Homo sapiens: one gene and its partner. The protein of the gene in region 1 purifies or fractionates together with the protein of each later gene. This does not show direct contact. Each region holds a gene or a part of one and is shown on either strand. Other genes may lie near its edges.

What was found.
Region 2: the proteins of MYCBPAP (region 1) and IQGAP3 purify together in Homo sapiens (affinity purification with mass spectrometry; one large-scale study listed by BioGRID and IntAct). This does not show direct contact.

What each region holds. Positions count from the first base shown.
Region 1 is NC_000017.11:50,521,628-50,525,647, forward strand, and holds part of MYCBPAP (MYCBP-associated protein), read left to right. Parts: intron 1-345; coding exon 346-454; intron 455-1,127; coding exon of another isoform or gene 1,128-1,175; exon of another isoform or gene 1,176-1,305; intron 1,306-1,311; coding exon 1,312-1,501; intron 1,502-1,969; coding exon 1,970-2,157; intron 2,158-3,249; coding exon 3,250-3,396; intron 3,397-4,020. UniProt on the Homo sapiens protein: May play a role in spermatogenesis. May be involved in synaptic processes.
Region 2 is NC_000001.11:156,534,566-156,538,065, reverse strand, and holds part of IQGAP3 (ras GTPase-activating-like protein IQGAP3), read left to right. Parts: intron 1-744; coding exon 745-885; intron 886-2,818; coding exon 2,819-2,903; intron 2,904-3,332; coding exon 3,333-3,500.

The DNA of each region.
Region 1 (4,020 bases):
ACTCCTAATGGGGATTTCCCAGACATTCCCTTGCTGGTCAACTGAGGGCTCTCTAGACCCTCCCACTGCTATGCATCTTGAATGCCTCTGGCATGGAGAGTCTGTGTATTTCTGTGTACTGTGAGTGGCTCTGGCAAGAGGGCTTAAAGAGTCTGTGTGTTTCTAAGAATCTCCCATCTACAGCAATGGGTCAGGAGGAAGCTGCGTGGGAGTGGAGTTGATCATACTCCATTGCAGGGTAGAGCTGGTTGTGTTTCTAGGCTTCCTGGTGACCGTTTCTGTGGGGTTCCACATGGCATGACTGTGGCAGCCTAAGAGAAAATAAGTCATTGGCTTTTCTTACAGAGGCACATTGGCCAGTTCCTCTGATGTCTCCATGCCTATTCTCGGCCCTTCTCTGCTGTTCTGTGGGAAGCCAGCTTGCTGGATCAGAGGCAGTAATCCACAGGACAAGGTAAAACAGCCTCCACCACACCTGCTGGGAGAGCCTCCCTCAGGGGTGCAGCCCTGAGGTGACTGGCAGTTACCAGCAGCCTGCACAGTCTCCTGTTTGGGTTTTTATCTGGTCGTGCATTCAGCACGTCTGAAAATGGTGACAGCAACACTGACTTGAGCAAGAATAAAATCACAAGGCTGCGAGTGTCATAAGCCACTTGGGGCTTATACCCAGCCCCCAAGCATGTAAACAAGCAAACTCAAGTAGGTATGGCTCTAAGAAGGTTCCAAAATATTCTTCAGATGCTAAGGAATAGAAGTGTTCATTGGATATAAAATATATTTTATCTGGCCAGGCGCAGAGGCTCACGCCTGTAATCCCAGCACTTTGGGAGGCTGACGTGGGTGGATCACCTGACATCAGGAGTTCAAGACCAGCCCTGGCCAGCATGGTGAAACCCCATCTCTACTAAAAATACAAAATAGCAGGGCGTGGTGGTGGGCACCTGTAATCCCTGCTACTTGGAAAGCTGAGGCAGGAGAATCGCTTGAACCCGGGAGGCGGGGGTTGCAGTGAGCTGAGATCACGCCATTGCACTCCAACCTAGGTGACAAGAGCGAAACTCTGTCTCAAAAAAAAAAAAAAAATATATATATATATATTTGTTTTATCTTCTCTTCTTGCTATTGAGGGTAACCTCAGAGACAACCACGCTGGAGTAGGATACCACTCTGTGTGACAGTGGCCAAGCCCTGGAGGCCTGGGACACGAGACTTGCAGTGCTAAAGCCAGAAAAGTCCTGGGCAGACCAGATGAGTTGTTCACTCTAGGCCAGGGTTTGCAGCAAAGACATTTCTTGTCCCTCCTCCTTCCAGAGGCAGGTTGGGATTGCTGCTCACTTGACCTTTGAAACCCTAGAAGGCGAGAAAACCTCCTCAGAACTGACTGTGGTCAATAATGGCACCGTGGCCATTTGGTATGACTGGCGACGGCAGCACCAGCCGGACACTTTCCAAGACCTTAAGAAAAACAGGATGCAGCGATTTTACTTTGACAACCGGGAAGGTACTCGGGAGAAGCCACCCTATGTGCTAGCTCCTGTCTGGGGCTGGTTTTGTCCTCCGTGAGACATCAAAGTTTAGTTATGGCCCAGCTCCTGTAAGTTTGAGCCCTGCTTCCCTGCCTTGTCCCTCTCATTCCTTCTGTGAAATGTGTGGCCTGACTACTCATGTCTGTTGAGAGACTGATGGAACTTGAGAACCTGGGGAGGTGAGCCACCAGGGAGCAGAAGCGTTCTAGGGGCTCAGTTATCTAGGTGCACAGGCCTGGGGCTAGGATGGCCAGCTGTCTCTGTTTGCCTGGGACTTTAGCACTCAAATTCCCACATTCCAGGAAACCTCTCAGCCCTGGGCAAACTGGGATGGTTGGCCAGCCACCTGGCCTGGGACTCAGTTAACTGCATGTAGGAGCATGTAGGCCTGGGGCTCAGCCAGCTCCTGCATGTTGAAAACCTCGGGTCTCTGTCCCTCTCAGGTGTGATTCTGCCTGGAGAAATTAAAACATTTACCTTCTTCTTCAAGTCTTTGACTGCTGGGGTCTTCAGGGAATTTTGGGAGTTTCGAACCCATCCTACTCTATTAGGAGGTGCTATACTGCAGGTCAATCTCCACGCGGTCTCCCTGACCCAGGACGTTTTTGAGGATGAGAGGAAAGTACTGGAGGTAAGGGACCCAGGACCATGGCCCCTGTGGACATCAGGTAGGGTATCCTGGTGTTCTTCCTGGCAGTGACTGAAGGGATCATATTTCTCCCAGCCTAAGAGGAGAATTGGATTTTTAGCAAACAGGTAACTACTCTTGCTCCACAAACACTTCCCAGGGCTTGTGATTTAAAAGATGGGTGCGCTGGCTAGGCAGGCATGGAGCAGCTTGCAGCAATGCCATGCATGGCCCCACTGAGTTAGAAAGAAATTAGACTGAGCCTTAAGAGGCAGACTGTAAAGTACAATGTGTGGCCCTATGTACTGGTCTGTGTTTTGTTCATCGCTGTCTGGTACTACACAGTGGAGTTGCATTTAAGCGACAAGACTTCAAAACCAGGGAGAATAATTAATTAATACATAGCAGCATGAGTCTGCCCACCGTCCCACTCAATCAGCTGACAACTCGAGTGAGTGTGAGGTGGGAGCTTGGAATCTGTCGTCCGCAGTCAGTTTCACAGTGTGGCCATTTGAGCCGTGCATCCTGGGATTTGGTGGAAAGCTGTGCTTTTTTATTCATTGTGGCCCCCAATCACAAGGCCGGCTCCTTCATGTGGGGCTCAGCCAGTGGTGATCAAAGGTAATTTTGACAATGTCATGCTTGCTTTACTCATTGACTGTACAACCCATGTCTCACACAAGGCGCCCCTCCCGTGTTTCTGTGACACTCACTGAAGCCTGATGAAGGTTCACCACCATCCTCAGAAGCACCCCCACTATGTGCCCTGCCCCTTCTTCCTAATCTGGTGACATGCTAACTGTGTGACCACCAGGCCCCAGGCAGCAGCAGCTGTCACTGGAACTGGCCCTCCTCTGGATCCTTTTCATCCATTTTTAGGGAACAAGGATGTCTGGAGAGACTCAGAGGTTTTCAGGTCTTAGAACAGGCGTGTGTGTGTGTGTGTGTGTGTGTGTGAGAGAGAGAGAGAGAGAGAGACAATGGCAGGAACTCAGACCCTAGGAAGGCACAAAGTCCTGGGGGCTCCAACTTCCTGAAGGATGCATTGGTTTTGATAGCCTGGGCTGCCATCCTCTGCCACCTTCCCTTTTGCAGAGCAAGCTGACTGCCCATGAGGCAGTCACCGTCGTTCGCGAAGTGCTGCAGGAGCTGCTGATGGGGGTCTTGACCCCGGAGCGCACACCATCACCTGTGGATGCCTATCTCACCGAGGAAGACTTGTTCCGGCACAGAAATCCTCCGGTGAGGCCCAGCGCCAGCCCCTGCCCCCTCATGTGTGCCCTGCGTCAAGGGTCCCCAACCCGCAGGCCGCACAGCGGCAGGTGAGCAGTGGGTGAGCCAGCATTACTGCCTGAGCTCTGCCTCCTGTCAGATCAGCGGTGGCATTAGATTCTCATAGGAGCACGAATCCCATTGTGAACTGCGCATGCGAGGGATGGAAATTGTACACTCCTTATGAGAATCTAACTAATGCCTGATGATCTGAGGTGGAAGTTTCATCCTGAAACCATTCCCCAACTCCCTGCCATCCGTGGAAAAATTGTCTTCCACGAAACCAGTCCCTGGTGCCAAAAAGGTTGGGGACTGCTGCCCTAGGTGACAGTAATAGCAAACTCTTTTATGTGCCAAGCTCTGTTCTGCGCATCTTCCATGAGTAACTCACCTCTCTTCACAGCAGTCCTATGAGATGGGTACTATTTATTTTTGTTTATTTTTTTAAGAAATAGCGTGTCATACTGTCACACTCCAGGCCAGAGTACAGTGTCCCACTCATAGCTCATTGTGACCTCAAACTCCCCGGCTCAGGTGATCCTCCCACCTCAGCCTCCTAAGTAGCTAGGACTACAGGCATACATCACCATGCTC
Region 2 (3,500 bases), on another chromosome or scaffold:
ACAAAAATTCGCCGGGTGTTGTGGCGCACTCCTGCAGTCCCAGCTACTCGGGAGGCTGAGGCAAGAGAATCACTTGAACCTGGGAGGTTGCGGTGAGCCGAGATTGCACCACTGCACTCCAGCTCTAGGCAACAGAGTGAGACTCTGTCCCCCCGCAAAAAAAAAAAAAAAAATTTGCTGGGAGTTAGGATATGGACTCCTATTGATAGGGGTATAGAAGAATATTTCTATTTACAGATGAATAGGCAAATGAGATAGTGGGAGAGATAGGTTGCCCTTATAGCCTGGGGTCATTACTCAGGTCCCTAGGTGCTAGGGAAACCTAGCCACAGAGGCGAGCAGGCAATCCTGGTGGCTGCTCTGGATGGCACAGGAGGCTTTAGGTGAGGGAACTATAAGGCTCTGGCCCAGCCTCTCCATTATTCCAAACTCCCAAAGACTATTTGCAGCGCAGCCGCCTGCTTGTCATCTGTTCCCCTTAGAAGGGTCCCTAGATTCCACGTTCTCTGTTCCTTCCTACATTCTTCCAGCTTCCCTGTAGATACTCCAACTCTTCTTTACCTCCCGACTGCATTTCTCCAGTCCTTTCTCTCATTCTGGCCCTTTCTCCTTTAGCATGCTGAGCTGTCCTTAGCACATCTGTATGAGATCTTGTTGTTAGACAAGCGTTTAAGGAATAGGGCCTTGGGGAAGGAGGCCATTGGAGGGGGCTCCTGCTTACACCTTGTCTCTCTCTGCTCATAGCCATCTCCCATATGATGTCACCCCGGAGCAGGCCTTGAGCCACCCCGAGGTCCAGAGACGACTGGACATCGCCCTACGCAACCTCCTCGCCATGACTGATAAGTTCCTTTTAGCCATCACCTCATCTGTGGACCAAATTCCGTATGTGCAACAGCCCCACCCCAGCCTACGCATGGGATTTCAAGAGGGCCAGGCCACCATGGGGAGCAGAGCAGGGTGATAGTCCTGCAGGGAGGAAGGCAGGGAGGGAGATGGAGCCAGGGGTACTCAGAGGGGTTCCTGAAGAGATGTGGGGAATGCTCGAAGCTCCTGCTAGAGAGCTGAGCTGAGAGACGGCGTGCAAGTCTGTGTGTGGCCTGGTAGGATGTCAGTGGAACCAGAGGAGGGACCCTAAAATGATCTCAGGGACACTTTATTAGCTAAGAGCAAATGAGGAGAAAATGGGACTCTTCAGTTCCCAATATCAAAAATAAATATTTTAAGCCCATAAAGTACTTTATAGTTCTCTCTTTTCTTAAAATTTAGTCAATACGTTTGGTTTTCTACATTTATTTTTGACACATGATAATTGTACATATTCATAGGGTATAGTGTGATGTTTTGATACGTGTATACATTGTGCAATGAATGATCAAATCAGGGTAATTAGCATATCTATTACCTCAAACATTTATTTCTTTTTGGTGAGAACATTCAAAATCCTTCTAGCTATTTTGAGATATACAACACATTATTATCAACTATAGTCACCTTCTGTGCAATAGAGCACCAGAACTTATTCTTTCTACCTGGATGTAACTTTGTACCCATTGACCAACCTCTCCCCATCCTCTCTCCCCTTCTCCTACCCTCCCCAGACTCCGGTAACCACCATTCTACTCTCTACTCCTGTGAAATCACCTTTTTAAGATTCCACATATGAGTGAGATTATGCAGTATTTGTCCTTCTGTGTTTGGCTTATGTATGTCACTTAACACGAACCTCTACGTTCATCTATGTTGTCGAAAATGACAGGCTTTCATTCTTTTTTTGTTTGTTTTTCTTTATTTTTTATTATTATTATTTTTAAGACAGGGTCTCACTCCATTGCCCAGGCTGGAATGCCCAGGGCAAGATGAGGATGTTGAAAGGGGGAACCCACAGAGTTTATAACCCTGCTCCCCAAACCTGGAGAACCGGATTAAGAGTTTACAATTAGGAGTAAGAAAAGATTGTTCTAGGCTTAAGAAAGTAAAGTACACAATGAGCTGTAAACTTCTGTCTCTGGTACCCTAGGAGTGGAAATTGCTTTTAAATGAATTTAATTACATTTGTAGGTGGCACATCCATAATAGGAATAATAATGATAATACAGTCTAGCACATTTGAATAGTACTCTACCATTATACGTTACTCTCGCAGACATAATTTCACTTGATCCTCAAAAAGCCCTGTGAGAAGAGAAGGCAAGAATGATCATTCCCATTTTCTAGACCAGGGGACAGACTTACAAAGGAGAAGGAAATAGTCTAAGATAATATCTCTGGTTGGTGGTGGAGTCCAAACTGGAGCTTCTCCTCCCGGCTCACTGATCTCCTTGGGGCCCTACCTCTAGCCCAGACTAGGCCACTCACAGATGCTCTGTGACAGCTGACAAGGTTGACTACCTCGGAGCCACCTAGGCTGTCCTAGGACAGGGTTTTGGCTGTGAGTGTCAGATACCCAAGCTTTAGGTTAATGGTGCCTCTGGGGGATGGGGGATGGCTATGGTGAGCTGGGGTGCTCTGCAGGGGACCCAGAGAGTCTCAAAGAAGAGGTTCTCGAGCCAGGTTGGAGGCTGTGTGAGAGATTTAGTAGATGATAGGGCCCTGGTCCTGACTACTGACATAAGGCAGGAGGAAGGGACAAGGCCCAGAGACGTTTGGAGGAAGGCAGCAGGGAGCTGGCTATGGCTAGTGGAGGGACAGTGCTTGAGCTCTACTCTGGAGTGGCTGAGCCTGGGGGAGAAGAGACAGCCAGGCACTCAAGCTCTTATCTCTGGCAGAGAGAGATGGGCAGAGGCACAGCCACGCGCACCTGTTTCTTTGTCCCCAGGTATGGGATGCGATATGTGGCCAAAGTCCTGAAGGCAACTCTGGCAGAGAAATTCCCTGACGCCACAGACAGCGAGGTCTATAAGGCAAGTGTTGTCTCCCCACCCCCACCTCCCAATCCCTCCTTTGCTTTGCTGGTACCTGCAATCCCCAGACTGAGACAAAAACACAAAAAATCCTATGCCATAAAAATCCAAGGAGGGAAATATGCTGCCCCCTATAAATGGAGCCTGGCTCACCCGCAGGGCTTCAGGTGGCAGATGGCTCATGCTGGGGTGTGAGCGAACAGAGTGGGCAACACTGGCTTCTTGTCAGGAGATCTGGGTTCAAGTCCCAGCTCTTGCTCAGGTTTGCTGTGTGGCCTTAAGCAAGTTGTCTGCCTGCTCTGGGCCTGTTTTCTTTGAAGTGAGGGGGTTGGCCCAGGTGTCCCTTCCAGCCAAGCAAGCTGAGAATGTGGGGCCGCACCAGTCAAGGCGGCCCCTGGACACTTCTGGGAGAGTCTCCTTTGCCCTCAGGTGGTCGGGAACCTCCTGTACTACCGCTTCCTGAACCCAGCTGTGGTGGCTCCTGACGCCTTCGACATTGTGGCCATGGCAGCTGGTGGAGCCCTGGCTGCCCCCCAGCGCCATGCCCTGGGGGCTGTGGCTCAGCTCCTACAGCACGCTGCGGCTGGCAAGGCCTTC